Linked DNA regions of Homo sapiens. The protein of the gene in region 5 purifies or fractionates together with the protein of the main gene of each other region. This does not show direct contact. Each region holds a gene or a part of one and is shown on either strand. Other genes may lie near its edges. The genes, in order: ARHGEF11, SUB1, SPIN1, EIF2A, PAK4, KLHL42 and HSD17B4.

What was found.
Region 1: the proteins of PAK4 (region 5) and ARHGEF11 purify together in Homo sapiens (affinity purification with mass spectrometry; 4 studies listed by BioGRID and IntAct, with this or other methods). This does not show direct contact.
Region 2: the proteins of PAK4 (region 5) and SUB1 purify together in Homo sapiens (co-immunoprecipitation; 2 studies listed by BioGRID and IntAct, with this or other methods). This does not show direct contact.
Region 3: the proteins of PAK4 (region 5) and SPIN1 purify together in Homo sapiens (co-immunoprecipitation; one large-scale study listed by IntAct). This does not show direct contact.
Region 4: the proteins of PAK4 (region 5) and EIF2A purify together in Homo sapiens (co-immunoprecipitation; one large-scale study listed by IntAct). This does not show direct contact.
Region 6: the proteins of PAK4 (region 5) and KLHL42 purify together in Homo sapiens (affinity purification with mass spectrometry; 2 studies listed by BioGRID and IntAct, with this or other methods). This does not show direct contact.
Region 7: the proteins of PAK4 (region 5) and HSD17B4 purify together in Homo sapiens (co-immunoprecipitation; one large-scale study listed by IntAct). This does not show direct contact.

Annotation. Positions count from the first base shown.
Region 1 is NC_000001.11:156,934,340-156,937,742, reverse strand, and holds the end of ARHGEF11 (rho guanine nucleotide exchange factor 11), read left to right. Parts: intron 1-246; coding exon 247-494; intron 495-737; coding exon 738-927; intron 928-1,498; exon of another isoform or gene 1,499-1,612; intron 1,613-1,684; coding exon 1,685-1,743; 3' UTR 1,744-2,903; downstream 2,904-3,403. UniProt on the Homo sapiens protein: May play a role in the regulation of RhoA GTPase by guanine nucleotide-binding alpha-12 (GNA12) and alpha-13 (GNA13). Acts as guanine nucleotide exchange factor (GEF) for RhoA GTPase and may act as GTPase-activating protein (GAP) for GNA12 and GNA13.
Region 2 is NC_000005.10:32,591,630-32,596,033, reverse strand, and holds part of SUB1 (activated RNA polymerase II transcriptional coactivator p15), read right to left. Parts: coding exon 4,349-4,404; intron 1-4,348.
Region 3 is NC_000009.12:88,464,521-88,468,924, reverse strand, and holds part of SPIN1 (spindlin-1), read right to left. Parts: intron 554-4,404; coding exon 320-553; intron 1-319. UniProt on the Homo sapiens protein: Chromatin reader that specifically recognizes and binds histone H3 both trimethylated at 'Lys-4' and 'Lys-9' (H3K4me3K9me3) and is involved in piRNA-mediated retrotransposon silencing during spermatogenesis.
Region 4 is NC_000003.12:150,549,495-150,553,898, forward strand, and holds part of EIF2A (eukaryotic translation initiation factor 2A), read left to right. Parts: intron 1-2,861; coding exon 2,862-2,931; intron 2,932-4,404. UniProt on the Homo sapiens protein: Functions in the early steps of protein synthesis of a small number of specific mRNAs. Acts by directing the binding of methionyl-tRNAi to 40S ribosomal subunits.
Region 5 is NC_000019.10:39,131,658-39,136,061, reverse strand, and holds part of PAK4 (serine/threonine-protein kinase PAK 4), read right to left. Parts: intron 1,876-4,404; exon of another isoform or gene 858-1,875; intron 1-857. UniProt on the Homo sapiens protein: Serine/threonine-protein kinase that plays a role in a variety of different signaling pathways including cytoskeleton regulation, cell adhesion turnover, cell migration, growth, proliferation or cell survival.
Region 6 is NC_000012.12:27,789,929-27,794,332, reverse strand, and holds part of KLHL42 (kelch-like protein 42), read right to left. Parts: intron 2,626-4,404; coding exon 2,432-2,625; intron 1-2,431. UniProt on the Homo sapiens protein: Substrate-specific adapter of a BCR (BTB-CUL3-RBX1) E3 ubiquitin-protein ligase complex required for mitotic progression and cytokinesis. The BCR(KLHL42) E3 ubiquitin ligase complex mediates the ubiquitination and subsequent degradation of KATNA1.
Region 7 is NC_000005.10:119,528,415-119,532,818, forward strand, and holds part of HSD17B4 (peroxisomal multifunctional enzyme type 2), read left to right. Parts: intron 1-1,479; coding exon 1,480-1,566; intron 1,567-2,851; coding exon 2,852-2,990; intron 2,991-4,404. UniProt on the Homo sapiens protein: Bifunctional enzyme acting on the peroxisomal fatty acid beta-oxidation pathway.

The DNA.
Region 1 (3,403 bases), on a different chromosome or scaffold from region 5:
CTTGAGTTCATCGCTCAGCATCTCCCCCAGCTTGGGGCCAGACTGAGCAAGTGTCATCTAGAAGGTCTCGGGAGCAGGGCTTTTAGGGGGCTGGCAGACAGTGAGCAAGGCCCACGTTCTCTGAGTTTGTCTGGAGAGGACTGCCTGGCCTGCTCTGTCAGGTGGCTGGGGAATCCCACAGGAACGGGAGGATAGCTTCGACTTCTCTGTTTGCCTCCTGATCTCATTCTCTTACTGTGGGGACAGGGAACTGCTTTTATGTCAGCATGCCATCAGGACCCCCGGACTCAAGCACCGACCACTCAGAGGCACCCATGAGCCCCCCTCAGCCTGACAGCCTCCCTGCAGGGCAGACAGAGCCTCAGCCTCAGCTGCAGGGAGGCAACGATGATCCAAGACGCCCCAGCCGCTCTCCTCCAAGCCTGGCCCTCAGGGACGTGGGCATGATCTTCCATACCATTGAGCAGCTCACTCTCAAGCTCAACAGGCTCAAGGTGAGGGAAGCAGGGCTTGGGTCCCTGCAGGCCTTCAGTCCATCACCCCAAAACCATTCCCCATGAGTGAGATGTGTGTCTTCGCGGGAGCCCTAGATCCTGTCCTGGCCCAGGGATCTTCCCCCAGCCCGCCCAGCCACCCTTAAATCACACCCTCCTCCCCAAGGCCCAGCACAGACCCCTTCCCCAGGGGCCTTAGGAATAGAAGGACTCGAGCAGACATTCCCCCGCCGACTCTTCCAGGATATGGAGCTGGCCCACAGAGAGCTGCTCAAGTCCCTTGGGGGAGAGTCATCTGGTGGCACCACGCCTGTGGGCAGTTTCCACACAGAAGCAGCTAGATGGACAGATGGCTCCCTCTCACCTCCCGCTAAGGAGCCCCTAGCTTCTGACTCCAGGAACAGCCATGAACTGGGGCCCTGCCCTGAGGATGGTGAGTGAAGCCAGGTCCCTCTCGGTTCCTACCATTGGGGGAGAAGTCTGCCAACTCGTGAGGACACATCACTAAGCAGTGAGAGATGGTGGTTCTGAGAGTGGTTTCCCCTTGAGTGAAACGAGTTCATTCTCTCAGCTTCAGAGAGGGATCTTTTTAGGGAAGTCCCACAGAAGCTCCCTGGCAAAATGGGGAGCTTAGCACTGAGCCCTCTTTTTCCTTGTGCTATGGAGGTAACAAACCAGGAGGAGCCTGTTCTCACCTCTAAGACTTGTTCTTTTTTTAATTTTATATATATATATATATATATATATATATTTTTTTTTTTTTTTTTTCTATTTATTTGAGACAAGGGCTGGCCTGGCTATGTTGCCCAGGCTGGTCTCAAACTCCTGGGCCGAAGTGATCCACCCACCTCAGCCTCCAAAGCAGCTGGGATTGCAGGTGCACACCATGGTGTCGGCCTAAGACTCGTGCTGATTAAATGATTCAGAACCACACTGGGTGGGCCAGGGACACAGCTATGTCATAACTCAGGAAGACAAGGCACATACCTACCTGACCTAAGGGCTTTAGGCGCTGATGAAAGTGGAGTTCAGTAGACAGCCCTTTTCAAGCCCTACGAGAAACTGGGGTTTCTGGAGGAGAAGGAAGGTGATGAAGGATCTGTTCTCGTGAGCCTGAACTTTCTAGACAAAACATGTGGAAGCGGTCACCTCAGGCTGGCCAGTTCCTCACCTTCATCCTCCTCCCACAGGCTCTGACGCCCCCCTGGAAGACAGCACAGCAGACGCAGCCGCGTCACCAGGACCATAACCGTACAAACCACCAAATCCTCTGCGTCCCCACTCCTCCTTCAGGGACTGGCCTGAGACCGGGGCACAGGGTAGGGGGGATCCCAACACTCCTCCCTGTGGAGGAGGCAGTTAGGGAAACTAGGATCCAGCCAAGGCCCGGGGGGAGACCCGCATGTTGCTTGGTCTGCTCAAGTCGGAGTCAGGTTTCAGTGTCTTTTCCCTCCCTTAGCCCAACCCTCCAAGGCCTCATGTCTCCTAAGCATGCTGACTGCATCCGAAAGGCCCCCACTCACCATGGTCTGCCCTCACCCCACATATGTGTGTACACGCGCACGCCTGTATGTGCGCTGCCCTCAGACATGCAAGTGAAAGGAGGAGGCTTCTGTGTAAATGCACTTTCTTCCTCCCCTCTTTCTCCATAAGACCCCAGGCAGAGGTGGGTGCCTCCCCTCCCCTCTTTGTCACTTTGGTTTCCTATAAATATGTATGTATCGTATGTGCATCTTTGCTATTGTAAATAACTTTGACCTTTTTTGTTCCTGTTCCTGAAGTGCTGGAGGCAGTTATGGAAGGAGCTGCTTAGGGAAGAGGGGTTTCACTTGTATCTCCTTAGTTAACAACCCAGTTCCAGGATCGAGCCTAAAGCGGGAGCCAGGCCTGAGTGTTCCTGTCCCTGTGAGTGGGAAGGTCTTCTGGCTCCCCATCCCACCTGGCTCCAGAGCCTGCCCTCCACAGCTTGCTGCCAAGCTACTCCCTCCCTCCCTGGACTTCTCATCTTCACAAGATGGGGATCATGGGGGTTTCTTACCCCACCTATGTCCCCCTCTTCCCCACCCTGTCCCTGTAGAAAACCAGTGAAGCAGGTACGGAGCTGAGGACTGGGCCCCAGGAGGTGGGGACAGGGGTCTGAATGCCGAGTCCCTGAATTCACCCAGGACCATCCAAGGGGCCACCGCAGCATTGGCCCCATCACCACGTCCTCACCCAACTCTCCCTGATGAATAGAATATACACACTGTGCTAGGTGTATATATACATATATATATATATAAATATATATATAATATATAAAATATAGATATGGAAATGACTGTTCTGCTGTTAAGATAATGTATACTCTTTTATTTTCTTCCTTTCATGGTTAAGATTTTTTTTTTAAGAAAAGTTAAATATCCTTCAGTGGTGGTGTGTGTGTTTCTTGGAATCGCTGTGATAAAAGGTACGGTGTTTGTTCCCTGTAAGACTGGTTAGGATTGGATAGTGGGAACCAGAGGGAGCCCTCTCACCCCCAGACCCAGATCTTGCCTGTTCCCTCCCAGAGCTTCAGCTGTGCACTCACTGAACTAGGGACTGGGCAAACTTAAGTTGTACAACCCCCATGGAGAAAACATGACAAGACACTGAACTCAGTTACACACACACAGATATATATATAGATACATATATATACACACATATATAGATATACACACACACACACATATATATACACATATATGTGTATATAAAGGAGCAGTGGACCCAGAGTCAAGAGGTCTCATGAGCTGCCCTCAATGAGCTTGAAGACTTTAAAAGCCAAATCTAAGTGGGAGGGTTGCCTCAGGCCTGGCCAGTTCATCACTGTCATCATCCATCCACATCCTCCCACAGACGCAGCCACATCACCAAGACTGTAACCA
Region 2 (4,404 bases), on a different chromosome or scaffold from region 5:
CTTACATCTGACAAAATATATAAAGTGTTACAACTCAAATGACCTGGCATTTTAAGTGGCCAAAAGATACTCTTCACAAAAGATATAAAAATAACCAATAAACACACTAAAGATGTACAATGAATTAAGACATGTACATGAGGGAAATGGAAAGTAAAACCACCATGAGCTACCATTATACATTCAATGTAACTAAAAAGAAAAAAACTTAAAAGACTGACAATATCTAGCGAGGATGTGGAGCAACTGGAATCTCCTAAGTAGTACCGATGGCTGTGTAAAATGCTACAGCTACTATGGAAAATGGTTTGACAGTGTCTTATACAGTTACACATTTACCCTACGACTCAGCAAATGTATCTGGTATTTACCCAAAAGGGAAAAAATGTCCACAAAATGACTTGTACAAGAATATTCACAGCAGTTGTATTCCTAATAGCCCAAGACTTGATACAATCCCAATGTCCACCCAAGGTGAATGGATTTACAAGTTGTAGTATTATCATACAAAATACTACTCAGCAATAAAATTACTGATATATGCAACAAGAACTAATCTCAACACATTATACTGAGCAAAAGCCAGACACAAAAAATAGACTGCATGTATCCATTTATACAAAGTTCTAGAAGAGACAACATAAATCTATAGTGGTAGAAATAAGATCAGTGATTACCTAGGACATGAGCAATGACTGTAAAGCCAAGAGGAACTTCCTGGGGTGATGAAAATGGTCTGGCCACAAAGGCGTGTACATTTACCACAGCCTATCAAGGTATGCTTTTAAATGTGTGCGTTTTATTGGACATAAACTATACCTCAAAAACATTTTTTTTTTTAAAAAAAAAAGGAATCTGCCCAACAGCTGCCTCTCCCTTGGGGGGAAAAAAAGAGTAAAACTGACAAATTCTTATTAGCAAAAATTAAACAAGTGATGAGATAGTAGTATAGGGATATATTACTTAAAGATAGAAAAAATAAAGATCACTGAAATCACATTTTATTGGAAAAAAATAAAATCAGATGACAATATATTTTATATCCACAAAATCTGGAGATTAGCAGCAAAAAATAGCATATACATCATAAAGAACTGTGATTCTTATACGAATTTGATTCCCTGTCCCCTCTGAAGATCTGATAAAGCAGTGGTTCCTAACCTTTTTGGCACCAGGGACCAGTCTCACGGAAGACAATTTTTCCACAGCAGGTAGGGAAGGGGAAAGGTGATCGTTTCAGGATAAAAATTATCCCACCATCAGGCATTAGATTCTCATAAGGAATAAGGAACGCACAACCTAGATCCCTTGCATGCGCAGTTCACAATAGGGTTCGCGCTCCTATGAGAATCTAATGCCGCTGCTGATCTGACAGGAGGCAGAGCTCGGGCTGCAATGTTCACTCACACACCGCTCACCTCCTGTGCAGGAGGGACCCCTGTGATAAAGGTTATGAATAATTCCTTCAAACACAAAAAAGAAAACTCAAATTAAAAAACAATTCTATGGACTCCTGCCCCAGATTAAAATGACCAGTTATAATCATTTTAAATTAAATAATTTAAAAGTATCAAGTATCCTTAAATCATCAAATAAACTAAAGCAGTATTACTGACCCTTTGTGCCTAACTCTGAAGAAAAATATGGATTAAAGTTTCCTGCCTCAACTATTCTGACCTTTCAAGACACAGGTACTAAATAATTATGAGATAATTCTCCAGTCTCTTTACTATCACAGATGTCACCTCAGGTAGACTACATCCCTATGGAAGAAAGTTCTTCAAAATCAGAGCTGAAGGAACCAGGAAGTAAGCATCTCTAGTATCTTCTCTCTAGTCACGATTCTGCCCCAATCACTTCAGACTTTAAAAGATAAGTCTATTGATTTTTCTTTGGTACAACTCTTTAATACATTTAGAGAACTGCTTATGTATTGATGTTTGATGTACATCAAGCTGTAATGGCAATGAAATTAAGTATCATATTATTTCATAATGCCTACACTACTAGATCCATGAAAGCCACTCTGAAAATAAGGCCTAGGCTGGGCGCCGTGGCTCACACCTGTAATCCCAGCACTTTGGGAGGCCAAGGCAGGCAGATGGCGAGGTCAAGAGATCGAGACCATCCTGGCCAACCAGGTGAAATCCCGTCTCTACTAAAAATACAAAAATTGGCTGGGGGTGGTGGCGCATGCCTGTAGTCCCAGCTACTCAGGAGACTGAGGCAGGAGAATCTCTTGAACCCAGGAGGCGGAGGTTGCAGTGAGCCGAGATTCGTGCTACTGCACTCCAGCCTGGTGACAGAGCGAGACTCCGTCTCAAAAAAAAAAAAAAGAAAAGATGACCTATGTTCCTCCTAGAGGCAGGCTTTCAAAAGGTGCAATGTCAGCCTTAGGAGGCTTAGGAATCTTTCCAGATGAGGGTTTAAGAAATGAAGCTCCGTTTTTCTGGTGAGAAAATTCCTAAAATTAGATCTAGTTTTCACAAAACTCCTCTTAACAGAACAGAATCTCTAAAATGTGTGTTCTGAACTAAATAGTTCATCTGCACTTTGTCTATCTTTTTTACCTAGAAGTATAACAAGGCAAAAATAAGCAATAGGAAAAAAAAAACTTAAATTTTCCCATTCTCACCTTAATCTTGGCACTCCACCTTTCAAAGTTATCAACAGGTCAAAATATACATGTGTTAGCCTTACTTTCTAGTCATATAAATGTCTACAGTCTTGGCCAGTCACGGTGGCTCACGCCTGTAATCCCAGCACTTTCAGAAGCCAAGGTGGGCGCATCACTTGAGCTCAGGAGTTCAAGACCAGCCTGGGCAATACTGTTTCTACCAACAACAAAGAAAATTTGCCAGGCGTCATGGAGCATTGCCTGTAGTCCCAGTTACTCAGGAGGCTGAGGCAGGAGGATCATTTGAGCCCAGGAAGCGGAAGTTGCAGTGAGCAGAGATCACACCACTGCACTCCAGCCTGGGTGACAGAGCAGAGACCCTGTCTCAAAAAAAAAATTGTAGTCTCGTTCCACCCAACTTTTTGGTTTCAACTAATACTTATAGCTCCTGGAAACACTCATCCTTTTCTTGCTCCCATTACTGCACTCTTCTAATTTTCCTTCACCCTCTCTCTTAACCTACATCCTCTTTTTCCTTCCATTCTCTATCTGAATATAACCCAAGACATCCCCTCATCTGCTTCCTGTTCTTCCTCTGTTTAATACTTCAGTAGGCAGCTTTAGTCAACCATGCTGATAATCCCACATGAACATTTCCCAACTAAGCCCTTCAGGTGCTACAGAAGCAACACCATTTTTTTTTTCAATCACATCCACAATCAAGTCCACATCTTCACTGACTGCCTAATTCCTCTGGTCCATTCTTCCTAACCTGTATCTTGTAATTGGCATAATTTCTTCTTTAGGAAAAACCATCTAAGCCCTTATCACCTCACATACAGATTAAAGCCTACAATTACCTAAGCAATCTCACCTGCATTCATTTATTCCCCAACATCCCTTCCTCACAAATCCTTCTTGTACAAAGATGCCAGTGTCAAGTCTCCCTAAAACAAGACAGGAAACCCAAGAGAAAAAGCTATACGAGTCCTCTCTAGGTGATTTCATCAAGTCCCTCTAATGAACTTCCTTCACTTTATCTATTCAACCCATTCCCCTTTTCTGTTGCTCATCAGGCCAAAATTAGGCATGTCACATTGCTGCTTCCTGTCCCATAATAATCTATTCATACTTTACTGTCCCAACACTTGACCTGCCTCCTCCAAGTTGCTTTCAAAATGTGCAGTTCTCAATTAAATTTGCATTGGTTTAAATACAGCAAAACTAGACTTTAGAGACTTTAACAATAATCCAGCATCGTACAAAATACTTTTACTAGTTTGTTCTATTTTAATAAATGTCCCTAGTTAAGAAGATTGTAACATACATATTAGGCAATTATCAGATCATAGTACTTTTAACATTCTTCAGATCAAGCCAGATAATAATTCCTCTGAATCTAAAGAAACAGCCAACTTTGGCAAGGCATGGTGGCTCACACCTGTAAACCCAGCACTTTTGGAGGCTGAGGCAGTTGGATCACAAGGTCAGGAGTTCAAGACCAGCCTGGCCAAGATGGTGAAACCCCATCTCTACTAAAAATACAAAAATTAGCCAGGTCTGGTGGCGGATGCCTGTAATCCTAGCTACTCGGGAGGCTGAGGCAGAGAACTGCTTGAACTCAGGAGGCTGAGGTTGCAGTGAGCCGAGATGGCGCCACTGCACTCCAGCCTGGGTGACAGAGCATGACTCCATGTCAAAAAAAAAAAAAAAAAAAATAGCCAACTTTACCTGAAACATGTTATCATCTCTGCTGCTGCTGCTCTGTTTAGAAGATGACAGGGCTC
Region 3 (4,404 bases), on a different chromosome or scaffold from region 5:
TACACGGGGACGTATTTTACTGATCCCTATTCCATCATGTTTTTAAATAAAAGCAAGAAGTAATATGTAGTAGTGTTAATAATTATAAAACAACTTGTATCTTATTACAGAAGCCAAGCAGAACTGACTATCAAATATTTTCTTATCTAACATTTATAACAACTGGATGAAAAATTTCAAAGGCTGTGTTTGTGCATGACTAAAAGAATCATATATCCAAAAATAAAAATGTATCTGCAAAAGAGCCAATCAAATATCTTGTACTGAAGTCCAAATCCCTTCTAATTATCACATATAAAAGTTGCCAATATATACTTACTGGAATCAGGCATAATGCGAAGGTCGCCTTCTTTGTAATCATCTAAGAGTTGGTACATGTACAAGACAGGGTCTTTCTCATAGGTAATGTAAAACCATGTGTTCATGACAGGTGCACGTGCTAAGACCATTCCCCTCCACTCATCTTTAGAACCATCCTCTGTCTCAAACATATGTTCCACTGCTTTGCCAATCATTGTGTCTGCCAAGTGTGCATCGCTGATTCGAGATGTCGCTGGGGATTAAAAAAAAAAAAAAAAAGTTGACAAAGTGTTTCGCTGATTACCGACTATGAAGACTGAATTTACTAAAGAAGGCTACACCTGAAATTTTGTCCATGCAACGTATTAGCAAGCATCAGAATCTGGGAAAGCTTTAAAAAGTACAAAAACCAAAGACAAACTACTGGGCCCCAGCTCAGAGATGGATTCAACAGAATAGAAGTATTTTGTCCCAAGTCAGTTAATTGAAAAAAATATGATTTTTTATTTTTCTGGACTCATCTGCTCTTGGTTCTGTACCCAAATCAAAAGTTTTAATTGTTCATTCAAGGTATAAAATACTGTTTGTTATTGTTTACTTAACAGTTAAATTTTGAGATAATTTCAGACTTACAGAAGAACTGGAAAAATAGTAGAGTTCCTGTATACGGTTCACTTTGCTTCTCCTGTATTAGCATCTTACATAACCACAGAACGTTTATTTAAAACTTAGAAAAGCTATTCAAGGCACAGAGGGTTTTTTTTTTGTTTTTTTTTTTTAAAGAAATTGGTGTTTGTTTTCCTTCAGTCTTATTTCCATTTTTTTATTAAGGCATAGGTTTTTACTCTCTTGCTCCTACAATCTTATTCTTCACTGCAACCAAAGTAATCGTTGTGTCACTGATACCACATTGTGTGATCTAAAATGTTCCCATGCCTTCCCTTTATAATTTGAAAAACAACCAAACTGCTCACCATAGCCCCCAAGCCCTAAAAGCCTTCACGCCTCTGCCCTCAGGTTTCCCATCTTCCTCCTTGTTGTTCATGCGTTCTCTACTCTGCTCTTCTTCCTCTCCCATTAGGACACACTCTCCTCTGCCTGATAAGCTCTTCCCCATACCTTCAGAAGGCCGGTTCCTTTTGGAGTTCTCCTGACCAACAAGGTAGCCCCACAAATCCCAGTCACATTACCCAATTTTACCTCTTAATAACATTCACCATGATCTAAAGTTATCCCACTTTATGTTATTTGTGTACTTGTTAGTTGCTTGTACATCCCCATGAAAGCAGAGACCTTCCCTTTCTTGTTTTATACCTAGATCATAGCAGGTCAGTATTTGTATGATTTAATCAGATACCCCATGTGGTTGGGAGCTCAGGTCTCTGAAATGATAGATTAACGGTCCTAGCCCTTAATATTTTTCAAAAGTGGTGAAAATTATCACCTTCATCTTTTTAATACTGGAAAAACTATGAAGGATCCCATTGGTTTTAAGACTTCTCCAGTCCACAATTTTAGATAACTGTCTTTATACCAAATTTAAACAATTATCTTTAAAAAACAAACAAACAAACAAACAAACAATTAGAGACAAGCACGGTGGCTCACGCCTGTAATCCTAGCACTTTGGGAGTCCAAGGCGGGCGAATCACTTGAGCCCAGAAGTTTGAGGCCAGCCTGGGCAACATGACAAAACCCCGTCTCTACTAAAAATACAAAAAATTAGCCAGGTGTGGCAGTGCAGGCCTGTAGTCCCAGCTACTGAGAAGGCTCAGGTGGTGAATCACCTAAACCCAGAGGTCGAGGCTGCAGTGAGACAAGATGGCGCCACTGCACTCCAGCCTGGGCTACGGGAGTGAGGCCCTGTCTTAACAACAACAAAAACAACAACAACAAACAATTAGCTCTCCTATTTTCCTCATTCAACAAACTTCTATTTCTGTTACATCAAAAGAAACAAAAAAGTGAGATTTTCTTGATACATGTATTGCTATTTAATTTTATCAGCAAACCCTAAACATGTATGGCTGGTTTTAAGTACGCAGTAATAATAAAAAATTACACAGAATTCCCCCCGTGTATGACAGTAAAAAAACCCCACTAGTTTCTTAAAGCCAGTAGATCTCAGACTTAGATCTCAGAACTCCATGTGCATTCTTAAAAATTACTGGCTGGGCACAGCGACTCACATCTATAATCCTAGCACTTTGAGCCCCAGGCAGGAGGATTGCTTGAGGCCAGGAGTTTGAGACCAGCCTGGGCAACATAATGAGATCTCATCTCTACAAAAAGTTAAAAATTAGCAGGGTACTGTGGTGAGTGCCTGTAGTCCCAGCAACTCAGGAGACTGAGGCAGGAGGACTGTTTGAGCTCAACGTGTTGAGACAGCAGTGAGCCCTGATCACACCACTATACTCCAGCCTGGGTGACAAAGCGAGATCCTGTCTCTAAAAAAAAAATTAAAACATAAATGGAAATTACTACAGACCTAAAAAAGCATCTGTTTACATAGATAATGCCTACCAATATTTACTACTTCAGAAAATGAAAAACAAATCTAGAAACATTTATTTAAAAATACCTATATATCAATGCATTTTAAATTAAAAATAACTATTTCCTATCAAAATACATTAAGAGTGGCTTAATTTTACATTTTTGCAAATCTCCTAATGTCTAGGTTTTAAAAAGAACAAGTAGATTCTCATATCTGCTTTAGCACTCAATCTGTTATGATCTGCTCTTTCAGTTCAGGTATAAAATCCAGCCTCTCAAAGATATGATACTGAAAAGAATATTCTAATCGTCTTTCAGATAATTCTAGATATACTTATATGAAACCACAGAATTCAACAGTTAGCTCCTTAAAGGTTAGTTACAATGCAGAATCTGAAACCATTAATAAATCTGTCATACTGTTACATTAAAACTCATGTCTCCAGAACATATAAAGAACTCTCACAACTCAACAAAAATCAAAATAACCTAATTAAAAAATGGTCAAAGGATGTGAGTAGATATTTCCCCAAAGATGATTTACAAGTGGCCAACAAGCACATAAAAAGATGCTCAATATCACTAATCATCAGAGAAATGCAAATCAAAACAAAATGAGGTATCGTATCACACCCATCAGGATGACCACTATGACAAAAACAGTAAATAGCAACTGCTGACTAAGGGATGGAGAACTGGAACCCTTGTATACTGTAGGTAGGACTGGAAAATGGTACAACTGCTGTGGAAAACAGTATGGTAGTTCTACCTAAGAAATTAGAATTACGATACTAAAATTAAAATTATAATTACCATATGATCCAGCAATCCCACTCCTGTGCCTATATCCAAAACAACTGAAAGCAGGATCTCAAAGAAATATCTGCATATCCATGTTTACAGGAGCACTATTCACAATTTTACATGGTACAATTTTACATTCTACCAAGAGGTAGAAGCAATCCAAATGTCCATTAATGGGTGAACAGATAAACAAACTGTGGTATATAGATACAATGGAATGTTCTTTTCAGCCTTAAAGGAAATCCTGTCACACGTTACAACATGAACCAACTTTGAGGACATTATGCTAAGTGAAATAAGTTACTCACAAAACAAATACTGTGTGATTCCACTTCTATGAGATATCTAGAATAGTCAAATTCATAGAGACAGAGTGTAGAATGGTGGTTGCCAGGGGCTGGGAATGGGAGGAAAGGTAGGTTGTTTTGTTTAATAGGTAGAGAGTTTCAGATTTGTAAGATGAAGTAGTTCTGGAGATCTGTTTCAACAATGCGAATGTACTTAACACACTACTGAACTGTACACTTAAAAATGGTTAGGACAGTAAATTTTATGCTATGTTTTTTTACAATTAAAAAAAAAGTAGTTAGTCTTGCACTTTGAATAGCTCTTTCACCAATGCATGATGTGGTACCATGCACTGCTCATAAAGAAAATATTGTGTTCACTAAGTTATGCAAATCTTCCAAATAGATAGTGGGAAACTCCACTGTGTAATTGAGAAAAAGAGAGAGTGAAAAGCGCGAATTACAGCTTAACAAAATGAAAATATTTCTGACCTTGCAAATCTCCTGAATGGGCTTC
Region 4 (4,404 bases), on a different chromosome or scaffold from region 5:
GGTGTGAGCCACCATGCCTGGCCAGAAATCTGTTTTTCTTCATCTGTAGGTTCTTGCTTTCCTCCAGATTAAATTCATCTTTAAACTGACATTCAACCAAATGCCCAGCTCCAAAGGAAAGAACACATTTTTGCCAGTAGTCTCAGCAAAAATCTCAAGGCTAGCTGCCTTTGACTTTGCTTGGCTCACCTTTGTATCAGTCAACTTTTAATCATGTAGTCAGGACTAAATTATCTTCCCACTCCTCGATACTCCTCAAAAGAAAATGAGCGCCTCCTAAAGAAGAGGAGCTGGTTGCTAGGCACATAAAACAGCAATGTCCATTACGTGAAATTCACATTGTCTAATCTGCTTGACCAGTTGAAGTCACAGAGATAATTTATTCAAAATTGAGTGATTTTCCTAAACTAATACATAGTTCAGTGAATGTAAGAGTTGGGAAAAGTATCGTATTTTAAAGATGACTACACCCCTGCCATGGGATCCTTGTTTATTGAAGCCCTGTGTTTTTCTCTCTCTAACTCAGGCCTAGAGCAATAAATAGTATATGAATGTCTAAAAAGGCTAGTAAGCTTGGAAAAGATTATGTAGATGTTTAATGTATTTCACACAGCTACTGTGTGAAACTGGCGTTTATTTGTTGTCTTAAAAGAACTGCTTGCATTCTAGATTTTTCTTTCTGCTAGAACATATTGCCAATCCCATTTGATTGAAGAGGGAAATCACTAAAAACAGGGAATCACACAAACTCAGAATACACTATATTAAGCTAACTACGCATTGTATTTAGTTTCACAGATACTTGTAACTAAAAAGGATTCCTTGTTAGAAAGTTACATGTAGAAAAAAATTGTTTCAGTATTGAGAAGTTTTTTAGTCCCTATTTATTTTTGCTTTTATTAGTTTAAAACAGTTTATGTTCTGTTATGGACCTGATTTTGTGTTTTTTTCTAATAAACTTTGTATCACAGCTTATCAGGAGTAAATTAAACTGTATATGCTTTTATTAAATTTATTTAATAGAAAAACTAATTAAATCTAGCAAGGCATCTTAGAAGTACAAAATGTCAGTTTGGGCCAGGTGGCTTACAGCTGTAATCCCAGCACTTTGGAAGGCTGAGGGAAGCAGATTGGATTGCTTGAGCTGAGGAGTTTAAGACCAGCCTAGGCAATGTAGTGAAACCTCGTCTCTACAAGAAATATAAAACTTAACATGGCTTGGTGGTGGGTGACATGATCATGGTTCACTGTGGCCTTGACTTCCCAAGTCCAGGTGATCCTCCTGCCTCAGCCGTGCGAATAGCTGGGACTACAGGCATGTGCCACCGTGCCCAGCTAATTTTTGTAGAGACAGCATCTCCCTATGTTGCCCAGGCTGGTCTTGAATTCCTGGGCTCAAGCCATCTGCCTGCCTCGGCCTCCCAAAGTACTGGGATTACAGGTGTGAGCCACCACGCCTAGCCTGAGCCCTATTTTGTTTTCCAGCTTCATCATCCTCTAGCCACACAGGCCTTCTTTCCATCCCCTTGACGCTCTGTCGTTTTTCTTTCCATGGGGTTTTTGCACTTGTTAACTGTTCTCCTTGCTTGTTAACTGCCATTGATCCTTTACATCTCAGTATACAAAACACTTAAGGATGCTTTCCCTAACCTTCCATTTTTAGGTTAAAACTCTCTTTTATACCCTCAGTGGTACCATATACCTTTCCTTTGAAGGACTAAACACAGGTATATGATTCCGTATATTTGGCCAATTATTTGATTACTGTTTGCAAAGTTCAATGAGGTCAGAGACAAGGCTGATTTTCTTTCCTATTATTTCGCCAATGTTCAACACAGGGCCTAGGAGGTAGTTTGTTCGTTTTTTTCCCACTAAGCATTTGTTGACTAAATGAATCTATTTATTTGGTTCAGCTTTAGAAGCATTTAATTCAACCATTTAAAAAAGTATAGTCTAGGCTAGGTGCGGTGGCTCACACCTGTAATCTCAGCACTTTGTGAGGCTGAGGAGGGAGGATTGCCTTAGCCCAGGAGTTAGAGATCAGCCTGGGCAACAGTGAGACTCTGTCTCTACAAAAAAAAAAAATAGCCAAGCAGGGTGGCACATGCCTGTAGTCCCAGCTACTTGGGAAACTGAGCCAGGAGCATCACTTAAGTCCAGGAGTTTGAAGTTGCAGTGAGCCTTGATCATGCCACTGTACTCCAGCCTGGGTGACAGCAAGACCCTGTCTCAAAAAAATAAATAAATTTAAACATAGAAATAAGAAGTATAGTCTAGTTCTGTAGATGATTATTTAATCTTGAACTTTGTTTCCACTTAATTTTTTAGGCTATTACTGTCATTGGGGCCTTAATAAATGAATATGTCTCATTCCACTTGTTCTCTTAGTTTGATAAATTGTGAATATATTAATATTGCCTTATATTTCTAAAAACTTTAAACATATACTTTTTTTATTACTTTATATAAAGCATACAGCTATCCTGTGTTCTGATATTTCCATTTTACAGATTAGGTCACAGATTCAGAGGTGGTAACGTATCCAAGGTTCCACAGGCAGTTATAAACTTAGGTCAGGCTCTGAATTCATGTCCTCTTTACCACAAGACAGCTGCCTTTCTTTCAGTGGTGACAAAGTTTCGAGTTTTATTTAAAAAGTTACGTATTTCTCAGCAATTATATGATTTTATGTAACAGAGTAAGAAAATATGCCCTTTTGTTGCTAATATTCTATAGTTCAATGAAATATTTAATGATTTCATTAATATTTTGACTAAAGCTGCTTTTTTAAAAAACACATTTGTGTTAACTGAGTCTTTATTAACAAAGTAATTGTGGTTCTTTTTATTTTACTTCTTTAGTCCGAGGATCAGAAGGACTGTACATGGTGAATGGACCACCACATTTTACAGAAAGCACAGTGTTTCCAAGGTATGATTTATTTTGTTAAGTAATGTTATAGGGAACATACAGTACAATCTAAAATGGTTTTGTTGGTGGTGTATTTTGAACAAGAAAGGAAAAGAACAGATGAACTCATTTTTATTGTATAATATTTACCGAAGATGAAAAGAATACATATTCTCTATCAAGGAAAATGATCTTCAGATCTGAAAATAGTAACTTAAGCCTATTTATAAGGTAGGGGGAACAATACTAAGAAAAAGTGTAGACACTAGTGTAATTGAATACAAGCCTTTATTTTACAAGAGTTGTATCTTAAGGAATGAGAAAAACTTGCAAATTTGATAGCCAAATCATGGCCAGTAATCTTAGTGAAATCATAATGAAAAAGATATTAAAAAGGGAGGACATATATATGCACATAGTATATAGCTAGCTAGATTAATTTTTTTTTCCCCAAAGAAACAATGGACAAGTAAACCAAAAACTAGTTAAAAATGCTTATCTATAGGGGGAGAGAGTTACAGAATGCGGGGGAGAGAGTTACAGGATGCAGGGGACACATCTGTGAAAGAGCTTTGGTATAGTTTTGACTTTGGACCATATAATTGTTTTAAATTTAAAAATTAAATTAAAAGCTGGGCCCGGTGGCTCACGCCTGTAATCCCAGCACTATGGGAGGCCAAGGCAGGCCAGATCACCTGAGGTCAGGAGTTCAAGACCAGCCTGGCCAACATGGCAAAACCCCATCTCGGCTAAAAATACAAAAATTAGCCGGGTGTGGGGGCAGGCGCCTGTAATCCCAGCTACTCTACTCGGGAGGCTGATGCAGCAGAATCGCTTGAAACCCGGAGGTGGAGGTTGCAGTGAGCCAAAATCAGGGCATTGCACTCCAGCCTGGGCAAAAAGATGAGACTCCGTCTCAAAAAAAAAAAAAAAAAAAATTGGGAAACTAAAATAAGTGATTCTAGCTTTATATCAGGTTGGTGGCATAACCATGTGAAGACCTGCAAAATTCTTTTTTTTTGAGACTGAGTTTTGCCCTTGTTGCCCAGGCTAGAGTGCAGTGGTGCAATCTCGGCTTAATGCAACCTCTGCCCCCCAGGTTCAAGCGATTCTCCTGCCTCAGCCTCCCAAGTAGGTGGGATTACAGGTGCCTGCCACCATGCCTGGCTAATTTTTTTGTATTTGTAGTAGTGACAGAGTTTCACCGTGTTGGCCAGGCTAGTCTCAAACTCCTGACCTCAGGTGATCCACCTGTCTCATCCTCCCAAAGTGCTGGGATTACAGACGTGAGCCACCATGCCTGGCCTAATAGTTTTCTTTTTAACTGAAAGTTGATATTGTCATTTGAATCTACTATAGGATAGAGTAAATTAATTGTATTAATGTTGTTAGGCACCAAGATTTTTCAGCATTAGAGTGAAAAGATAGACTTGCCTATATCAGTATGAACTCATGATTTCCTTTCATAAAACATTTGCATTTCCTAGTTCTGGC
Region 5 (4,404 bases):
CGAGGAAGAGGTGTGACCAGGAAGGGGGTGGCGAGGAAGGGGGGTGACGAAGAAGGGGGATGACGAGGAAGGGGAGTGACAAGGAAGAGGAGCCCGCAGCACCAGGTTACATTGTCATGTAGAGTGACAGGCTTTCCAGACACTTTGGATGTGGCGGGGGGGCAAGAGAGGAGTCAAGGTGATAGGGTGCCAGATTTGGAGAAGCCTAATCCCGAAACAAGACGAGGGATGGGGGTTCCTGTTCCCAAAATGGGGTCACTGTGGGAAGATGGGGGCCGGGAGCCTCCAGCCCGGCTTATCTTTCTGTTGCTCTGCAGTCGAGGTCTGTGTTCCCACTGGACTGAGCTCGGGGAGGGCTGCCTGTTGTTTGGGTTCACCCTTCAGTCGCTGGGCCCCAGCGCAAAGCTGGTCAAAGAATACACGCTTGGGCAGGGCGCAGTGGCTCACGTCTGTAATCCCAGCACCTTGGGAGGCTGAGGCAGGTGGATCCCTTGAAGTCAGGAGTTTGAGACCTGCCTGGCCAACATGGTAAAACCCTGTCTCTACTAAAAATACAAAATTAGCCGTGCGTGGTGGCACATGCCTGTAATCCCAGCTACTTGAGGGGGTGAGGGAGGAGAATGGCTTGGATCTGGGAAGCGGAGGTTGCAGTGAGCTGAGATCGCGCTGCTGCACTCCAGCCCTGGTGACAGAGCAAGGCTCCATCTCAAAAAAAAAAAAAAAAAAAAAAAAAAAAAGAATAAGCACTTGACTCCTGTCCACAGAATGGGTGAGAGTCGGAATGGACAGGAGCAAGGGGAGGACAAAATAACATGAGGGGCTCAGCCCGATGATAACCAGTGGTGTTACTTTTGCAGGAAAAAAGAATAAAAATGTTCCAAGGTCAACCAAAAAGTCTGACGGTACCAAATGTTGGTGAGGAGGTGGAGCAACTAAGATCCTCAGTCACCACCGCTAGGAGGATACACAGATTTGACCACCTTGGGAGGCTGTGTGGCAGCGCCCACTAAATCTGAAGCTACCCCACCCTCTGCCCTGGGCTACGCACTCCTGGGTATATTCCCTGAAGAAACGCAGGCACCGGCACCCCAGGAGATGCTACAAAGAGATGGCTCGCATCAGCGCAGCAGGAGATGGAGGAACAGAATATTATATGGGGCTGGGCACAGTGGCTCACGCCTGTAATGCCGGCACTTTGGGAAGCTGAGGTGGGTGGATCACCTGAGGTCAAGAGTTCAAGACTCGCCTGGCCAACGTGGTGAAACCCCCTCTCTACTAAAAATTAAAAAAAAAAATTAGCCAGGCATAGCGGTGTATGCCTGTAATCCCAGTTACTCGGGAGGCTGAGGCAGGTGAATCGCTTGAACCCAGGAGGCAGAGGCTGCAGTGAGCCAAGATTGCACCACTGCACTCCAGCCTGGGTGACAGAGCGAGACTCTGTGTCAAAGAAAAAAAAAGAATATTATACAGCAACAAAGATGAATGACTACAGATACACTCAGCACACAGATGGATCTCACAGGCCTAAGGGCGAAAGAAAGCACAGACAAGGACATACTGGAAGATTCCATTTATGTCAAGTTCAAAAGCAGGCAAGATGACATTCTGTAATTCAAGGATGCATACCTCATGGTAAAAACTATCAGGAAAAGCAAGGACACAGTGACCACCAAGGTCAGGAGAGCACTCACGACTGTGGTCGTGATGGACAGGGGTTATGGGCAGGCGGCTTTTGGGAGGTTGTGTTCTGTCTTTACCGAGGTGGTGGGGAAGCGTTGTTCACTTTGTAATTCTTTGCTAAACTTACCTGTGCATTTTATGCACTTTTCTATGGGCATATTATAATTGACAATTATTAAAGGTTTTTTAAAAGCAGTGGAGTTAGAAGCGCTGTGTATATATATAGCATTTGAGAGTCAAATAACGTGGGCCCAGGCTGCAGTGGAAGATTTGCGGGGAAGGGACGACAGAACTATGGAGGCCCCTGTGGGCGGCAGGGAAGGAGGGTTCCTCGGGAGAGAAGGACAGGGGCCTCCTGTGGGGAGGGCAGGGAGGGGTCTTCACCTGGGGACGGGTCTGTGGAGGGGCCAGTGGCCCGCAGGGTCCTACTTTCTCCCCATGGCCAGTGCTGACCGGTGACTGTGGGCGCAGTGAGGGAGGGAAGGGAAGGGGAGGGGGGCTGGCACCCCACGCAGCCCAGGAAGACCGGCCGCCTTCCGCCTCTGGGAGTGAAGTGTGGGAGTGGCAAAACCGGGCTGGGAAGTGAACTCAAAACCGCTGCACAATGCTGCTTTATCAGGAGTTCCCAGGACAGGTGGCAGGAGCAGGGAGGGTCTGGGACGGGGAGCTCTCTAGGTGAGGACCCTGCCCACCCGGTGCTCCCAACCCTCAAGGTGTCTGCTCGAAAGCTCCTGGGCAGCCTGCCTGGAATGCAGACAGCAGAAGGTGGGTGGGGGAAGCAGGAGGGAGAGCTTTGTAACCCTCAGGCTTAGCCCCGGGTAGCAGGGGAAGCGGCCACAGCGATTACCAGCCAGGCCTCCAGCATCCAAATCCCAGTTCCTCTTGCTCTGTGACGGGGCCAGGTCCCCCAGGCTCTCAGTCTCCTCCCTAGAAAAGGGAGATCCTAAGAACACGTGTGTCTTGGAGTTGATGGGAGGGTCCAGTAGGTTAGTTCACAGAAAGCACTCAAACAGTGCCTGCTCATATTAATAACATGGCTATTGGTGACATAGCTATAATATTAATAATACGGCTATTAGTAACGCAGCTAACAGTCTTTGAGCACTTACTATACATTTTGCCTGCCGAATATACATTTAGATCCTCAAAACAACTCTAAGAGTAGATATCATTAGCACCCTCATTTTACAGATGAGGACACCCGGGCACAGAGAGGTGATGTGACTTGTCTGGGGTCACACTGCTAGTAAGAGACAAAGCTGGCTCCGGAGGCCAAGCCCTTGACCTCTTCTGTGTCAGATGGGTTAGGAGCTCCAGAACGGAGCCAAGGTTTGAGTGCCACATCTGCCACGTATTTGCTGTGGGACTGCTGGCCTGTGCCTCAGTTTCCCCTTCTCAGAGAAAGTAAAATTATCAGGAATAGACAGCTCCAAGAAAAGGAAGCTCAAGATGGCTTTCAACAACACAAAGCTGTCCCACTTTGCTCTGATTAAAATCAGAACCATGATGAGACTGTTTGTCACCTATCTGACTGGCAAAGGTGAGAATGTCAGGTGACACCCGTCTATTCCAGCAAGGGAGTGAGGAAACCCCGGTGTCATCAGACACTGGGGGGTGGGAGTGTGAGCCAGACAACCTCCCCAGCAGGGTGAAACACTAACACTACCGGCAAAGTTAACGGGGCACCTGTCTCAGACCACGAGGCCACAAGCTCAGACTCACACCTAGAGACATATGCACAGCCACACTCAGGCGGGCGCAGCCCTGTTCACAGCACGGAAAGATGGGAATGGCCTGATGGCCATCAGCACAGAATGGCTGTGCTGTCCGTGGGGGCACGCGTGTGCGTGGGACACGAGGCGGCACTCTGTGTCCTGACAGCGAGCTTCGGAGTGGGAAACGCAAAGCACAGGACAGAATATAAACATGGGAAGTCCGCTCCATTTGAGTAAAAACAAAAGGGAGGGGCGGGCACTTGGGGGAACAAATATTTCAAGAAAGAAAGAAAAGAAACCGGGGGTGATGATGCTATCTCTGGGAAGGGCCTGGCAGGCGGGTGGGAAAGAGATTTGCTCGTCCCTGTACATCCTTTTGTGCTGTGTGCAGTTTTTCAGTGATTATTTAGGGGAATAGGTAATGCATGCACATGGAGGAAAAACGTGCTTTCTGAAAATTGAAACACGGGAAAAGAGAAACGAGGTTAAAAACACCTCCTCCTCAGGGTCTCTGGGTACAGCCACATGACCATGCTCATAGACTCACAGCACACGCGTGCCTGGCACGTGGAGCTGGGACCCCGGGCGGGGGGCTGGGGTTATTACAGCTCACTACGGGATGAGAACCCAGAGGGGGACAGGGTGCAAGGGACGGAAACCATCGAACGCACCAAGTTCAACATTTACCAAGCACTTACTGAGTGCTGAGCATCGGGCTAAGCACGACGCACACACATGATCTTCCGCCCTCCCACAGCCCTGAGAGGTGGCCACCAATACTCCCTGTAACAGGTGAGGAATCAGAGGCCCAGGGAAGTTCTTTGTCTCTTCCCCAGGGGCTCCCAGCTAGTGAAAAAGGCTAAGGGATGTGTGTGGACTGAGCAGCCCTGGCAGGGAAGTTCCACTGCCCCTCGGGAAGGCAGCAGATGGCCTCCCAGCCTGGGAAGGGTCGGGGCAGGACCGGAGGGTCCCAGGAGAGAGGCTTCAGTGAGCGGTGGCTTCTGTCGCA
Region 6 (4,404 bases), on a different chromosome or scaffold from region 5:
GGGCATCATGGAGCCACCAGCCAAGGAGCCCCGAGCTACCAGAGACTAGAAGGAGCAAGGAGGACTCCTCCCCTAGAGCCCTCAGAAGGAGCACAGCCCCGCTGACACCTTGACTTCTGACTTCTGGTCGCCAGAACTATAAGAAAATATGTTTCTGTTGTTTTAGGCCACCAAGTGTATACTAATTTGTTATGGCAGCCACAGGAAACTAACACACCTCCCACCATCTTCCCCACTGAATTAATGTTTCGACTTATTCTAAAAAGAAATAAATCAGATGTTCATCAAATACTTTACATTTTAACTTCTTCCTAACATAAATCCCCAAAACAGGACACATTTGGATATGGTGGAAGGAATTTCTGTCACCTATCTGGATGCTACGTTAGCATGTGGATTTCTGTCCTTTGGGAAGTTCCCATGGCTGCTGCGGCCTCACAGGGTCTTCTTCAGGCTTGTTAGCCAGGGTTGAAGAGCTCTGTCCTGCCCATATGGTACCACAAAGGAGTGGTAGTTTATTTCACCATGTCAAATAAAACGGCAGGTCTACTACCATAATGTGGCTTAAAGTCCTAAGAGCCAGGTTACACCTTTTCTGTAAGTCCTGGGCTCCATAGAGTCACACAGACCAAATGCAGAAATAGATTTCCTTGGCTAAGAGGTAACTTGGAGACATCTGCTTTGGAGAGTAGAGGGAAGGAAAGGCACCCCTCTGCTTGACTGTCCCCCATTGTCTGTCTTCCCACAACCACAGTTTTATTTTTTCTTTTCTTTTTTTTTTTTTTATTTTAGAGACTGGGTCTCACTCTGTCACCCAGCCTGGGGTGCAGGGGAGCAGTCATAGCTCACTGCAGCCTCAAACCCCTGGCTCAAGCAATCCTCCTGTCTCAGCCTCCCAAGTAACTGGGACTACAGGTACATGCCACCACAACCAGCTAATTTTTTTATTTTCATTTTTAGAGAAGGGGTCTTGCTGTGTTGACCAGGCCTATCTTGAACACCCAGGCTCAAGTGATCCTCCTGCCTCAGCCTCCCAAGCAACTGGGACTACAGGTACATGACACCACATCCAGCTAATTTTTTTCATTTTTAGAGAAGGTGTCTTGCTATGTTGCCCAGGCCTGTCCTCAACTCTCAGCCTCAAGCAATCCTCCTGCCTCAGCCTCCCAAAGTGCTGGATTACAGTCATGAGCCACTGTATCCCACCAACAACTACATTGTTCTCTATCACTGTAACCTGAGACAATTCCCTACCAAAAAGAGCAGTATAAAACTTGCTGGCAAGCAGGGCATGGTGACTTATGCCTGTAATCCCAGCACTTTGAGAGGCCAAGGCAGAACAATCACTTAGCCCAGGAATTCAAGACCAGCCTAGGCAACACAGGGAGACCTTGTCTCCACAAAAAATAAGCTTGTGGAGAAATTTTTTTAATTTCCAAATTATTAACAATAAAATGCCTACCAAAAAAGTGAAAAACACATATATACATTTTAATAAATAGTGGAACCAGGCCGGGCACGGTGGCTCACACCTGTAATCCCAGCACCTTGGGAGGCTAAGGCAGGTGGATCACCTGAGGTCAGGAGTTACAGACCAGCCTGGCCAACATGGTGAAACCCCATCTCTACTAAAAATACAAAAATTAGCGGGGCATGGTGGTGCAGCCTGTAATCCCAGCTACTTGGGGGGCTGAGGCAGGAGGACTGCTTGAACCCAGGAGGCAGAGATTGCAGTGAGCCGAGATCACGCCACTGCACTCCAGCCTGGGTGACAGAAGGAGACTCCATCTCAAAAAATAAATAAATAAATAAACAAATAAATAGATAGTACAACCACCTCCCACTGCTGGTCAGGAAAGAGCTCTCTTGTATTCATGTCCTTGCTCCTCCTGTGATATGTGAACAGTGTCCTAAAGCTGGGTTTCTGGAACCTCTACCTGATGTGTGTGTGCTCACAAAGAGAGAAAATGAGAACTAATCTGCAAGGATGCTCTGGTACTAAATTCCATAATGGTGGATGGGGGCAGGTTTGGTGTATGTTTGGGATAAGGATGGGAGTTCCCAGATAATCTTCTCCAAAGAGCTACCCAACCTCAGAGAGCGACCCCCACAAACCAGGCCCAGCCAAATCACAAGACGGCTGACCAAAAAGCTGGGTTTCCAGAAGCAAAAAAAAAGAGATAACATTTTTTTTTCACAGCTCTCCCTTCCCCATTCGATTTTCATGCTCACACAAAGTTATCAAAAGATCCCTCCTGTCCCAATCATCCCTGCCATATGGAACTCTCTTCCTTCCAGATGTGTAAGTGTACACTATTAAAGCATAACATGACACTCGGATATGTCGGGGCTTCCTCTGACACCCTCTTGCCCTTCCCAGACTGCTGACGCCTACACATGGGCAGACCACCTACCTGGTCCCTTCACTTACCTCTGGTAGTGTATCCTCCAATGACATAAATTTTTCCCTTACACTCACAGGCAGAGAACTCAGCCAGAGGATTGGGTAAGGGCGCCACAAAATTCCACGCATCCTGCTCGGGGTTGTAACACTCAACGTTAGAAACGGCCTGCCCTCCGATGGCATAGAGTTTTGAATTAACAGCCACAAGTTTGAAGTTAGACCTGAAAGAGAGACACAAAGGCCCACAGAGTTAGTTCTTCTGATCAATGAAAAGTGTAACAATGGCATGAACTACTAGACTCTCCTGAACATCTGAAGAAAATTCGCTCTCCCAGTTGGGGGCCATTCCGCCTGAGGACAGAGGAGGAAAGGATGGCTTCTCGAATCTCACTCCTGTCCCCAAGATTCCACGGGAATGGCACACTGTCCAAACACTAGCTATCGAAGATAAGCAGTTCAATACAACAAGTTATTAATCTTGTTCAGCCTTAGTCCAGCAACCAAAGACAATGTGTATACACTAAACTCCACACTTTCTTTCAGGGGCAGGCACAAGGGTAAGAGGGGAAGGCACCCACATCACCCCATTGTCTTTCACCTCTCAGAATGGGTATTTCATTCTTCCTACTGAGTAGTATGGCTTCATCTTAGGGACACACTGGTGCTGTCGAGACAGGCAGGTGCGAGGAGTGACTGCTAAAGGGTAGGTCAGGAGATCCTTGCACAACGAGTATACCTGAGCAAGACACTGGTCCTGCCTCCCGCCTCCAAGGGCATCTAACATACTGCTTCACAACATGTAAGATGGGGAGAGGTCAGCACTGAACAAATTCACAGTTTGTATTTATTTATTTACTAATTTATTTATGAAACAGGGTCTTGCTCTGTCACCCAGGCTAGACTGCAGTGGCACAGTCATAGCTTACTGCAGCCTTGAACTCCTGGGCTCAAGAGAGTCTCCTGCCTCAGCCTCTCGAGTAACTTGGACTACAGGTATGTATCATCATATTCAGCTATACTCAGCTAATTTTTTATAAACAGTTTTTTGTGGAGATGGCATCTCACTATGTTGTCCAAGATGATCTTGAACTCCTGGCCTCAAGTGATCCTCTTGCTTCAGCCTCCCAAAGTGCTAGGGTTATAGTTATAAGACACCACAACCAGCCTCAAAATATTTTGATCCAGCATTCTTAGGGTCTTTACATATGTTAATTCAACAAATACTTCTATTGACAAATGCTCATCTTTCATAAAAATAATAACTTGAAAAAGAGATGGACAATGGTTTCCAGCTCTATATTCAGAAAATAATTAAATGCTGCTTATCAGCTTCAGACACTAAATAAGTCTTATGATTTTTGAACTGAATAGTAACACAAAATTAATTTGTTTCGATATAGCACACAAAAGGCAGGAAGGATAAACTCTTGGGAGTGTTGGGTCAGTCTGCTGTGAGGTGTGCAACAGTCACAAGTTTACAAGAGGATGAGCAGCAGCATGATGCAACAGAAAAAAACCTGAGCACAAATCAGAAGACCTCGCTTCTAGTCCCAGCTCTGCTGATAACCAGCTATCTGACCCTGGTCCAACCACCTCACTTCCTCATCTGTAAAATGGGGTAACAGCCATCACAAGGTGGTAGAGATGATTAAATCAAATAGTCTATCAGAAACTACTACACAGAGATAAAATACTATCATTCAAATTTCTGTTTTCTAGTGTTTGAAATAAAGGTGCTAGACCAAGTGAATTTCAAGACCACATCCAACCCCAACACAATGATGTCTTCAAAAATAATAATATACTAAGAAAGAATGGAGGTAGAGGCTATGCACACACAAAAAACTTATATAAGGGAGTAGATTAAGAAGAAGCAGTAAACAAGAAGCCCATGCTTGATCCCCTAAAAAGTGTTCAATAAAACTGATGCATTACACTATGGAAACTAGGTTAGTAATAGGCACCTACTAAACAGTTAAGATTTTTTAAAGGTTCCTATC
Region 7 (4,404 bases), on a different chromosome or scaffold from region 5:
TTTTCAAATTCCTCCTGTCCTTCAGGCTTAAGTTCAAGCTCCACTTTGCTCTTAGAGACAGTCTCTTACTATTCCCCACTTTCCTACCCATAGATACACTCAAATTGGTGTTCTCTGAAAGCCTTTGCAGCTAATATCTGTGCCACATATTTTGGAGCCCTCACATTTTCTAATTTGTTTTGTATGAGTAAGTTTTGCTTTTTGATTAAGATTATGAACTCTAAAAGTGTTAAGGACCATGACTATATTACAGGTTTTTATTTTCCTGCAATTCTGGTGATGAATAGTATGTAAATAATTTCTATGGATACAAACTTGAAGGGCTGAGAAATGATTAAATGTCTAAATATAATGTATTCTTGCCATTTTGTTAAATTCTAAGCATGCTGTCTTATCTTTTCAGCATATTTGCTATATTTTTCTTCAGTGATTATAGATATTCTTTTTCTATTAGTTTTAGGACTCCTTCTCTCCCTGCCTCCTTTTCTCACTTTCTCCCTCCCTTCCTCCTTTCCTTTCTATTCTTAAGATATAAGAAACATTTTAAACCAGTGTTTTAAAATGATTTGCTTGATTTGGTAACAATAAAGTAATTTACTGAAGTGCATTTTGTTCATTAATTATCTCTTTCCATGCTTTTCAATGTATGTAATTTGAAGTAAAGTGAACAAATTACTTGAAAGATCTTTTTTCCTCCAAAATATGATGAGATGTAGTCAAGAGAATGATCTTCTTGATTGTTAAAAATCAAAGTTTTAATAAACGCTATGTTAAACTTTAGAAACTTATCCTATACATTTGTAGCAATAACAATTTTTATGAAAGAATAGCCATTGGAATAATTTGAAATGAAGGACTGGGAATTAGAATTTGAATTCCTTTAATGACTATTTTGATAAAAGCCTATTTAGACATTTAGTTCATGCTGTGTACACTTCCTCTTGAAATAAGACCTGGAATTACTACTTAAAAAACACTATTATGATTTGTTCCTAGCCAATTTTATTCTATATTAGCAGAACAAATGTACTTTGAGTACCATTACCTCATGTGGCTATTGTGCTATGCCTTTTACTATTTATAAGGATTCAGCATGGACTGAATTCTGTTTATAAGAGTGCATCCCCTGATCCCCACTTCCCCCCCAAAAAATGCCCAAAATACCAAGGCCCAGTCTCTATCAGTGTATTTACATTAGAATTTTGGGGGATGGGACCTCATAGGGTTTCTTTGTTTGTTTGTTTTAAAGGGCTCCAGCTGATTATAAAGCCAGGTTTAGTAACAGTTGTATTAAATCAGAAAGCCTTTATGTTTGTTCATCTTGACATTTACTTTAGCAGCCTTTTATTTTATCTGGATTATTATATTCTTTTTCATATGAGGCAAAAATAATAAATTTTAAACTTTGTACTGTTTCACAGTGAAATTACACTTCCATTGTAATCAGAATAAATCTTTTTTTTTTCTTCTCCTCCTAAGGTCCAAGAAACTGGAGACATTGTCATTTCAAATGCATATGTGGATCTTGCACCAACATCTGGTACTTCAGCTAAGACACCCTCTGAGGTAGGTTATAAAAATTAGTATCCAAGCCACTTCCTCATTTAGGAATTTCAGTTAAGGTGACTTTAAGAGTGGTTAGGCTACGTTAGAAAATTAACAACCATGAAACTATTCTTAATTCTTGAAGTGAAAAACATTAATTCAAAACAGCTTGGAATAGAAGGAATACTCTGGCAATTTATGAACTTTAAAAAACTCGTTTTGCAGGATACTAGGATATCTTTCAAGAGAACATAATTTTCTAGTTTTAGAATAAATAAATCAGTTGTTTAATCAGAATCTTAAGCAAACAGCGTTTTGGAGAAAAATAGATTAAAAAGTTGAATATCCTGTACCTTTTTCTTGATTTAAAGGTTTATATAAAGTTTTGTATGCAAATATATAAACCAGCAGCGTGTATAATTTATTAAAACATTGTATTATTTATTAGCATGCTGAGACTTTTGATAAAAATGTTTATATTCTATCTCTGAAATATTAACTTTGTAATGTTGAGGTTTCGATACCCATGATCTTTAATTGTCTGTCATAAACCATATAACTGACTGAAAATTAAAATCCCTTAAGAATAGTCTAAGAAAAAAAAAAACTTAGAGCGGGCTCGGTGCCTCACGCCTGTAATCCCAGCCCTTTGGGAGGCTGAAGTGGTTAGGTCACTTGAGGTCAGGAGTTCAAGACCAGCCTGGCCAACATGGTGAGACTCCATCTCTACTAAAAATACAAAAATTAGCCAGCCTTGGTGGCAGGCTCCTGTAATCCCAGCTACTCAAGAAGCTGAAGCAGGAGAATCACGGGAACCCGGGAGGTGGAGGTTGCAGTGAGCCAAGATTGCACTACTGCATTCTAGCCTGGGCGACAAGTCTGTCTCAAAAAAAAAAAAAAAAAACAAAAAACAAAAAAAACCCAAAACTTAAGTTTTAGAGCTGTAAAGAAATTCAGACTTCATGTAATTTAGTATTATTTTATAAATAAAAAAAATGAGACCATAGAAGTTGATTAATTTGATCAGGATCTTTCTAAAGTTAGCTAAAACATAGGTTGTCCAGTTCCTATTTTTCTTTTAAAATATTATTTCTGAATTCTAATAAAAGTAAAATCCTGTTATTAAGAGGACTGAGGTTCTGAGTGATGTATACAAATAAGAAAGTATGAAAGACACATTGTATGAAGAAAACTGACTTATGTACAGAGTTTTAAAAAATCTTTTTTTTGCACATGTTTTATAATCACTTTTCTCCATGAGTTATTTTTACAGAACTTTTAAAGTTTATTTTGTTGTCGTTGTTAGGGCGGGAAGCTTCAGAGTACCTTTGTATTTGAGGAAATAGGACGCCGCCTAAAGGATATTGGGCCTGAGGTGGTGAAGAAAGTAAATGCTGTATTTGAGTGGCATATAACCAAAGGCGGAAATATTGGGGCTAAGTGGAGTAAGTTATAGCCCTGATTTTATAATATTCTAAGGTAATTCTTAGTAAATAAAGTATCTTTTTAACAATTAAAGACCTTTGAAGGTAGGTAAATCTTACCTTTTTAGGTAAGTTTTTTTTCTTTTCCCGTGGGAATGAATAGGTTTGGGAATGTCCAAAGGGGGGTGTGTGTGTGTGTGTGTGTGTGTGTGTTTGTGTGTGTGTGTAAGAGATGTAGGGAATCAATTGAAATGAAAATAACCTGTTTTAAGATTTCATTGTAATCCTTGAAAGTAGTTTAAACAGTCATCTTGGCTATATGCATCTTTATCTAATCTTCAGCTTCTTAAACATAAGGCAAATTCATCAAGTCAAAATGAAGTATTTTTAAGTCATGATATTTGACAGTTACAAAATTATTTTATTCATACCAAAACAATAATTTGGATTATCTTAATTATCAATATAAAATCACTATTTTCTAGATATATACAGATTATGGTCAAAGGTGTTTGTTTATCTAATCTAGGGAAATTATCTATTAGAGTGCCATGCACCCAATATAAAACATCTTGCCGCAGAAAGAAAGCAGTCATATTTCTTTTCACTGATGTGGAGGTCCAAAGAGACCCTGGTACCATTTTGTGAAGAAAGAGAAATTAGAGGATAAAAAGAATAAAGAAAAAATATTCTGTCAGATCTTTTGCATCTGCTGTGTAACTCACATCCTTAATCATGGCACACACTTTAATTATGGAATATTCTAACCTCACCTTTATTTTCCTAGAGATTCTTCAATTAGGTTGAAAAGATGAAAATGGATAGGAGGTAGAGCAGTAAGTCCCTGAATTCCCTTTCAGCAGAGTCTGTTGCTTGTCACAGTTATCTTACTGTATTATGGTCATTTATAATTGTATGTTTTCTCTCATTTGACTTTGGGCTTAATCCTGAGAAATGGCTGCAGTTTGTCTATTTCTAGCTTCTAGTATAGTCAATAACACATAATAACTAGCCTGATTCTGTATATGTTGGAATGAGTGCTAAAAGCCATGTAGAAAGCATAGTTTTAGAAAATAGTATGGCTGCCTTTTAAAAAAAAGGTTCTGAAATTGATGCTTTACCTTCTATTAAAATAATGTTTATTGTATGGATAGTGATGTTTATTTTTTGTTTAGTATGAGTGAAATATGTAAGTATAATATGATACTGAGATATTTCATAAATAACTAACATATTTTATAGTATTTATTACTATTAATTTCTAAACCCAGCCAGAAGTTGTTGTAGTAAACCCTTTGAATCCTATTTTATTGTTCTAAGCAACGGTAAAAAATCGGAGGAAATGAAAGATGACATAAAGGCATAAGGGAGATAAAGAATCAGAGGATTTATGTGGCCTACAGAATAGTCTGCTCTTGAAAATTAAAACATAGGT